Homo sapiens: one gene and its partner. The protein of the gene in region 2 interacts with the protein of the main gene of each other region in a pairwise test. Each region holds a gene or a part of one and is shown on either strand. Other genes may lie near its edges.

Evidence for each region. Proteins that work in one complex are often made in the same cells at the same time.
Region 1: the proteins of SPATC1L (region 2) and PINK1 interact in a two-hybrid assay, tested with the Homo sapiens proteins (one large-scale study listed by BioGRID and IntAct).

What each region holds. Positions count from the first base shown.
Region 1 is NC_000001.11:20,636,458-20,639,957, reverse strand, and holds part of PINK1 (serine/threonine-protein kinase PINK1, mitochondrial precursor), read right to left. Parts: intron 2,117-3,500; coding exon 1,829-2,116; intron 67-1,828; coding exon 1-66. UniProt on the Homo sapiens protein: Serine/threonine-protein kinase which acts as a sensor of mitochondrial damage and protects against mitochondrial dysfunction during cellular stress.
Region 2 is NC_000021.9:46,167,230-46,171,140, reverse strand, and holds part of SPATC1L (speriolin-like protein), read left to right. Parts: intron 1-2,482; coding exon 2,483-2,833; intron 2,834-3,911.

The sequences.
Region 1 (3,500 bases), on a different chromosome or scaffold from region 2:
CACTCGGCTCGCTGGGACCAGCTCCTGGCTCATTGTGTTCAAGATGGCTTCGCTGGAGGAACCTGCCTGGAACACCCACAAGGAACCCAGGGTTACACAGGCCGGAGCAGAATGGTAAGTTCCTTGTAAGCCCTGCCTGTAACCTGGAGCAGGGCAGCTACTGCCTAGAATTGGCTCTGACCTTCGAGATAAGATGACCTGTCTTAACTGGCAGGCTGAGACTAGTTACTCCTGGGAGGCAGACAGAGGTACCATCCATGCCAACTCAGAGGATTCTTCACACTCCTCAAACTCTTGCAGCCTAGATGCCAGGGCTGGAGGAGATGCCAAGGTGATCAGGATATGGGGTGCTGCTTCCTGCCATCGGTGCCTCTGGTCCCCACCAGTTCAAAATTGACCACTGGATCACTAACTCATTCTGCAGGCTCCCTTCAGCAGCCAGGCCAGAGCCTGACATGCTCCACCCTGGGTGAAGTTGTACTGAATCACAGAACAGCCTTCCTCCATCCCCCACGACAAACAGACAAAAACCAAAGAGTGGGGAAAGCACCTTATTGTCCTCATTGTATTGGGAAGGGCTCTCAGGACATATGAAACCTGTATCAAGAAGATCTGGTAAGAATCAACAATCTTGTAGCTGCTGTGAATGCAACAGCTGTCATGCCCCAACCAGGGCATGTTTTGATGCTAAGACTGGATGTTTCACAGGCAAAGGATTTGGCTACTTGTTAGCTATTAACCCAGCTTGGAGTGCAACAGTCTAATAACCTTCATTCCCCAAATCAGAACAAGAAACTGCATCCTCTAGGGCCCACCATGAACGGCTGTGGCCACTTCCCACTGCGGCCTTGAATGGATGGGCCCAGGGATGGGCAGGAGACAGAGCATCGGGTCTTAATACATTTTTAAAACCTACCTAGCAATGGCAAGGTAAATAAATTAAGTGGACAGAAATTGTTTTCGTGGGGGAAAAATACTCTTCAATTTCCCAAAGTCTTGAGTCCTTCCAAGAGTTGAGAGTAGGGAGTTGACATGCAAGCCTCTGAGCTGGAGGTGGGCTTGCAGAGTGAGCTTAAAGGAAAGAGATCCAGTTCCCCCTCTCCAGTGAGGCAGGTTGCAGGAAGGAGGGGATGGTGAACTAACCAATCAAGGTAGAAATCAGTGGTTTAGGCACTTGTTACTCAAAGTGTGGTTGACAGAGCAGTGGCATTGGTATCACGTGGGAGCTTATTGGGAAGGCACAATCTTAGGCCCCATCCCTGACCTGCTGAATCAGAATCTACCTTTGGGTTTTTTTTGTTTGTTTGTTTTGTTTTGAGACAGGGTCTTACTCTGTTACCCAGGCTGGAGTGCAGTGCCACAATCTTGGATCACTGCAGCCTCTGCCTCTTGCACTCAAGTGATCCTCCCACTTCAGCCACCAGCCACCCAAGTAGCTAAGACTACATACAGGTGCAAGCTGTCACACCCGGCTAATTTTTGTATTTTTCATAGAGATGGGGTTTCATCATGTTGCCCAGGCTGGTCTCAAACTCCTGAGCTCAAGTGATTGGCCTCCCAAAGTGCTGGGATTACAGGCATGGTCCACCAGGCCTGGCCAAAATCTACCTTTGAACCTGATCTCTGGGTGATCTGTGGGCAGAATACAATTTCAAACATTCTGGTTTAGACTTCTGTGTAACAGGGGGAGGTAACCTGACTATACAGGCACCTTTCCTGTGGATAATCTGTCTTTTCCTACCTACTTCCTGGAAAAAATCCTCACCAGGCCCACTAAGATGGGCATTTTGAGAACATCTCCTTTAAAGATGAAAGGCCTGGTGCTTACCGAGATGTTCCACATCATCTTGATGGCCAAGGGGAAGGCAGGGGCCCCCGGAGCTCGCTCCTGCCCTTCTCCTGGTGCACTGGTACCTGGGCCTCTCCCTGGAAGCAACCCGGTGCTCTTTGTCACCTCCAGGTTCTGGGGCAATGTAGGCATGGTGGCTTCATACACAGCAGCACTGCAGCCCTTACCAATGGACTGCCCTATCAGATACTCCTCCAGCCGAAAGCCCTGCAAGCGTCTCGTGTCCAACGGGTCAGGCCCCGGCTTGCTTTTCTGGGTAAAAATTGCCTGTGATGAGAAAAGAATGCACCGTGAGCCAGGGAGCCTAGGAAGGCCCAAGAAAAGGGAAACAGGGGAGGCAGAGAGAGGTGCAGCAAGGCGTGGTCCACGTCGACCAGATCAATAAACCAGAAAAACACAACCCAACCAGGTTCTACTGCTCAGCCTGGGTCCAGGCCATCTTCTTTCTCATTATTCAGAATGATTTTTCTCAAACTCTGTTGCTTCACTGGGATCACAATACTCAATGATCTGAGAGGTCAGAAACCCCACGTCCCGCAGCCAGTGCACCTCTCCTTGCTGCCTTCACTCTCCAGCAGAGTTCTGGAGGTGTCTGATTATGGAGACAGCTCGCTCTGCAAAGACCTTGGCTGACGGCTCCTGGGCAACTAGCAGGAGTGTGTGATCCACAGTGATCTCAGAGGGTCTCTCAGGCAAGTGGGTGACATCAGGCGCATCCCCAGAGCAGAGGGATTCAGTACTGTCTTTCTCTCTCTGCCTCTTAGGGCCCCGATGAGGCTACTCTGTCCAGAAAGGTAGCAAGAGTACAAGAGTTCAGACAGAAATAGATGGAGGTGCAGGTGCTGGGGGCAGTGCTGCACTGGGAAAGAGGCCATGTGACAAAAATCTGGTGGGTCTTCCCCTGCTTCAGGCAGCGGTGACGTCACTCTTCCAGTCACCCAGGCTCCGCTTTCCCTCTCAAATGGTCTGATCTGCTGAGCTCTTCCTTTCCAAGGTTAGTCACCCCTGGGTGCCAGGCACAGCTCTGCATATGCCCCTTGGCCATAGCCTACCAGGCACCATCTCTAGACTACCCCACTCTCAGTGCCGTGCCTTCCCTGCTCTGAGCCACATCAAAATATGTTGCTTTCATGTGTCACTCGGCTGTCCATCAGACTGCCCAGGAGGTTATCTGTGTTCTGGCTGCTGCCAGGCTGGTCTGCACGCTGCCTGCACTCATCCTTTGGACGCCTCCCTCTGAAAGCTGCTCACAGCATCCTTCCAGCCCCTGTTTCTATAGTATTGCTCTGTCTGGCTCATCCCTGCTCAGCCATCAAGCCCAACTCAAGCTCCTCCTTCCTCTGTGACCAGCCCTGATGACCCAGCCCATGGCAACTTTCCTTCTAGAGGGTTCCTAAAGCACCTGCTATCTGTAAGCAACTTAACCTTGCACTATAACTTTGAACCTTTTAAAAAAATGAAAGTCCAGGCCGGGCGTGGTGGCTCATGCCTGTAATCCCAGCACTTTGGGAGGCCGAGGGAGGCGGATCATGAAGTCAGGAGTTCAAGACCAGCCTGGCCAACATAGTGAAACCCCGTCTCTACTAAAAAATACAAAAAATTAGCCGGGTGTGGTGGTGTGCACATGTAATCCCAGCTACTCAGGAGGCTG
Region 2 (3,911 bases):
GCCAGGAGGTGTTGGTGGGCATGGACCCTCCCCCTTGGTGTGGAAAGCAAAGAAAGTGAACACACCTGAGCCCAGCGTCAGACCACAGAGGATGTTCACAGAGCAGGAGGCTCCTCCCCATCCACAAAGGATGTTCACAGAGCAGGAGGCTCCTCCCCATCCACAGAGGATGTTTACAGAGCAGGGAAGCTCCTCCCCATCCACAGAGGATGTTCACAGAGCAGGAGGCTCCTCCCCATCCACAGAGGATGTTCACAGAGCAGGGAGGCTCCTCCCCATCCACAGAGGATGCTCACAGAGCAGGGAGGCTCCTCCCCATCCACAGAGGATGTTCAGAGAGCAGAGGGCTCCTCCCCATCCACAGAGGATGTTCACAGAGCAGGAGGCTCCTCCTGGACCACAGAGGATGCTCACAGAGCAGGAGGCTCCTCCCCATCCACAGAGGATGTTCACAGAGCAGGGAGGCTCCTCCCCATCCACAGAGGATGTTCACAGAGCAGGGAAGCTCCTCCCCATCCACAGAGGATGTTCACAGAGCAGGAGGCTCCTCCTGGACCACAGAGGATGCTCACAGAGCAGGAGGCTCCTCCACATCCACAGAGGATGTTCACAGAGCAGGAGGCTCCTCCTGGACCACAGAGGATGCTCACAGAGCAGGAGGCTCCTCCCCATCCACAGAGGATGCTCACAGAGCAGGGAGGCTCCTCCCCATCCACAGAGGATGTTCACAGAGCAGGAGGCTCCTCCTGGACCACAGAGGATGCTCACAGAGCAGGAGGCTCCTCCCCATCCACAGAGGATGCTCACAGAGCAGGGAGGCTCCTCCCCATCCACAGAGGATGCTCACAGAGCAGGAGGCTCCTCCCCATCCACAGAGGATGCTCACAGAGCAGGGGGCTCCTCCCCATCCACAGAGGATGTTCACAGAGCAGGGGGCTCCTCCCCATCCACAGAGGATGCTCACAGAGCAGGAGGCTCCTCCCCATCCACAGAGGATGCTCACAGAGCAGGGGCTCCTCCCCATCCACAGAGGATGCTCACAAAGCAGGAGGCTCCTCCCCATCCACAGAGGATGCTCACAGAGCAGAGGCTCCTCCCCATCCACAGAGGATGCTCACAGAGCAGGGGCTCCTCCCCATCCACAGAGGATGCTCACAGAGCAGGGGGCTCCTCCCCATCCACAGAGGATGTTCACAGAGCAGGGGGCTCCTCCCCATCCACAGAGGATGCTCACAGAGCAGGGGCTCCTCCCCATCCACAGAGGATGCTCACAGAGCAGGGGGCTCCTCCCCATCCACAGAGGATGCTCACAGAGCAGGGGCTCCTCCCCATCCACAGAGGATGCTCACAGAGCAGGGGGCTCCTCCCCATCCACAGAGGATGTTCACAGAGCAGGGGGCTCCTCCCCATCCACAGAGGATGCTCACAGAGCAGGGGCTCCTCCCCATCCACAGAGGATGCTCACAGAGCAGGGGGCTCCTCCCCATCCACAGAGGATGCTCACAGAGCAGGGGCTCCTCCCCATCCACAGAGGATGCTCACAGAGCAGGGGGCTCCTCCCCATCCACAGAGGATGTACACAGAGCAGGAGGCTCCTCCCCATCCACAGAGGATGCTCACAGAGCAGGGGGCTCCTCCCCATCCACAGAGGATGCTCACAGAGCAGGAGGCTCCTCCCCATCCACAGAGGATGCTCACAGAGCAGGGGCTCCTCCCCATCCACAGAGGATGCTCACAGAGCAGGGGCTCCTCCCCATCCACAGAGGATGCTCACAGAGCAGGGGGCTCCTCCCCATCCACAGAGGATGCTCACAGAGCAGGAGGCTCCTCCCCATCCACAGAGGATGTTCACAGAGCAGGGGGCTCCTCCTCATCCACAGAGGATGCTCACAGAGCAGAAGGCTCCTCCCGGGAGGCCAATTACAGCTGTGTGTTTGCACGGAAACATGGAAACAGGCCCTGTCCATCAATAGGGCAAGGGTTAAAAATTCAGTGTGTGTGTCTGTATGTGTGCTCATGTGTACAGAGTTGCCAGGAAACAGTTAAATGAACCAGGTAGCTACCAGATGGCTCAGGGTGGATAAATCTCAAAGAGATAATGCAGCAGCAAAAAGTTCAGTTGCAGAATAAAATGTGTAGGGTGCTACCATTTATGTACAACTTAAGCATATAAAAGTCATTCTCCAGTGTGTGTGGGCACACAGGCAGGCAGGAGGCACACGGAGGCCTGCCCGCTTGCTGTGCCCATAGACGCAGTGCTCCCACGGGCAGGATGGGCACCTGTGGCCACTTCACCACATCCAGCTCCTCCTTTTACACTTGAGGCCTGAGGGGAAGGAGGATGCTCTGAAGCCAGGGAAACCCCGGCAGGTGTTGAAGCTTGGGGTGGGGTGCATAGGGGTTGTTAACATGTTCTTTATACTTCCCAGGAATGTTTTAGGAGCATCAGCCTGATTTCTCATCCCTTTCCTCCCCGCCTCAGTTCCAGATTTCGGAAGGTTCACGAGTGTTGCCGACACGCCCTCCCAACTGCAGACATCCTCCCTGGAGGACCTGCTGTGCTCACATGCCCCCCTGTCCAGCGAGGACGACACCTCCCCGGGCTGTGCAGCCCCCTCCCAGGCACCCTTCAAGGCCTTCCTCAGTCCCCCAGAGCCACATAGCCACCGAGGCACCGACAGGAAGCTGTCCCCGCTCCTGAGCCCCTTGCAAGACTCACTGGTGGACAAGACCCTGCTGGAGCCCAGGGAGATGGTCCGGCCTAAGAAGGTGTGTTTCTCGGAGAGCAGCCTGCCCACCGGGGACAGGACCAGGAGGAGCTACTACCTCAATGGTATGGCCGGGTGCGGGGGCACCTGGGGGGGCCCCCAGTGCAGGCTGGCAGCTGTGGGGAGGGCATGACTGGGTGGTCAGGCAGGGCCGTTTCTCCATCCAGTCACACAGAGTGGAGGGAGGAGAGCCAGGCTGGGAGGCTGGGGTCCAAGGCTGTGTCTGTCCTAGTCTTTTGTCCATCTTTAAAGATAAAATGGGTTGCTTATCTTCTTCTTGGGAAGTTGTGAGAGTTCTTTATGTGTCTGGATATGAGTCCTTTTTTGGGTGTATGTTTTGCAGATACGGTCTCCCACTCCATGGTTTTTCATTTTCATAATAATGTTTTTTGATGAGCAAAACTGTTTAATTTGATGATGTCCAATTTATTGATTTTTCTTTTGTATTTTATGCTTTTTATGTTCAGTTTAAGAAATCTTTGCCAAGCCCAAGGTCACACAGATTCTCTCCTGTGTGTTGTTCTAGAAGTTTTATAGTTTAGGTTTTACATGTAGGTCTCTGATCAATTCCAAGTTAATTTTCATATATGGTGTGAGGTTTGCATGTAGATATCCACCTGAGGCTCAGGCCAGCCTCCCACCTCAGCCTCCCAGGTATCTGGGACTACAGGTGTATGCCACCAGGCCTGGCTAATTTTTTGGTTTTTGTGTTTTTGTTATTGTAGAGATGGGATTTTGCTACGATGCCCAGGCTGGTCTTGACCTCCCGGGCTGAAGCAATTCGCCTGCCTCGGCCTCCCAAAATGCTGGGATTACAGGCATGAGCCACCATGCCTGGCCTGTCAATTTTATTTATCTTTTCAAATAACCGATTTTTTGTTACATTGATCTGTTGTATTGTTTTCTTCATTTAAATTTCATTTATTTCTTCTCTGATCTTAATTATTTTTCTTCTAATTTTGGATTTGGTTTGCTCTTGCATTTCTAGCTCTGTAAGATGAATCATTAGCTTATTTGAAGTTTTTCTACTTTTTTGATATAGGCACTCATAACTATAAACTCTTAGCACTTACAGCTATAGCTCTTAGTATGGCTTTTGCTGAATCTAGTACATAGTAGGTTTTGGTGTGTTGTGTTTCCATT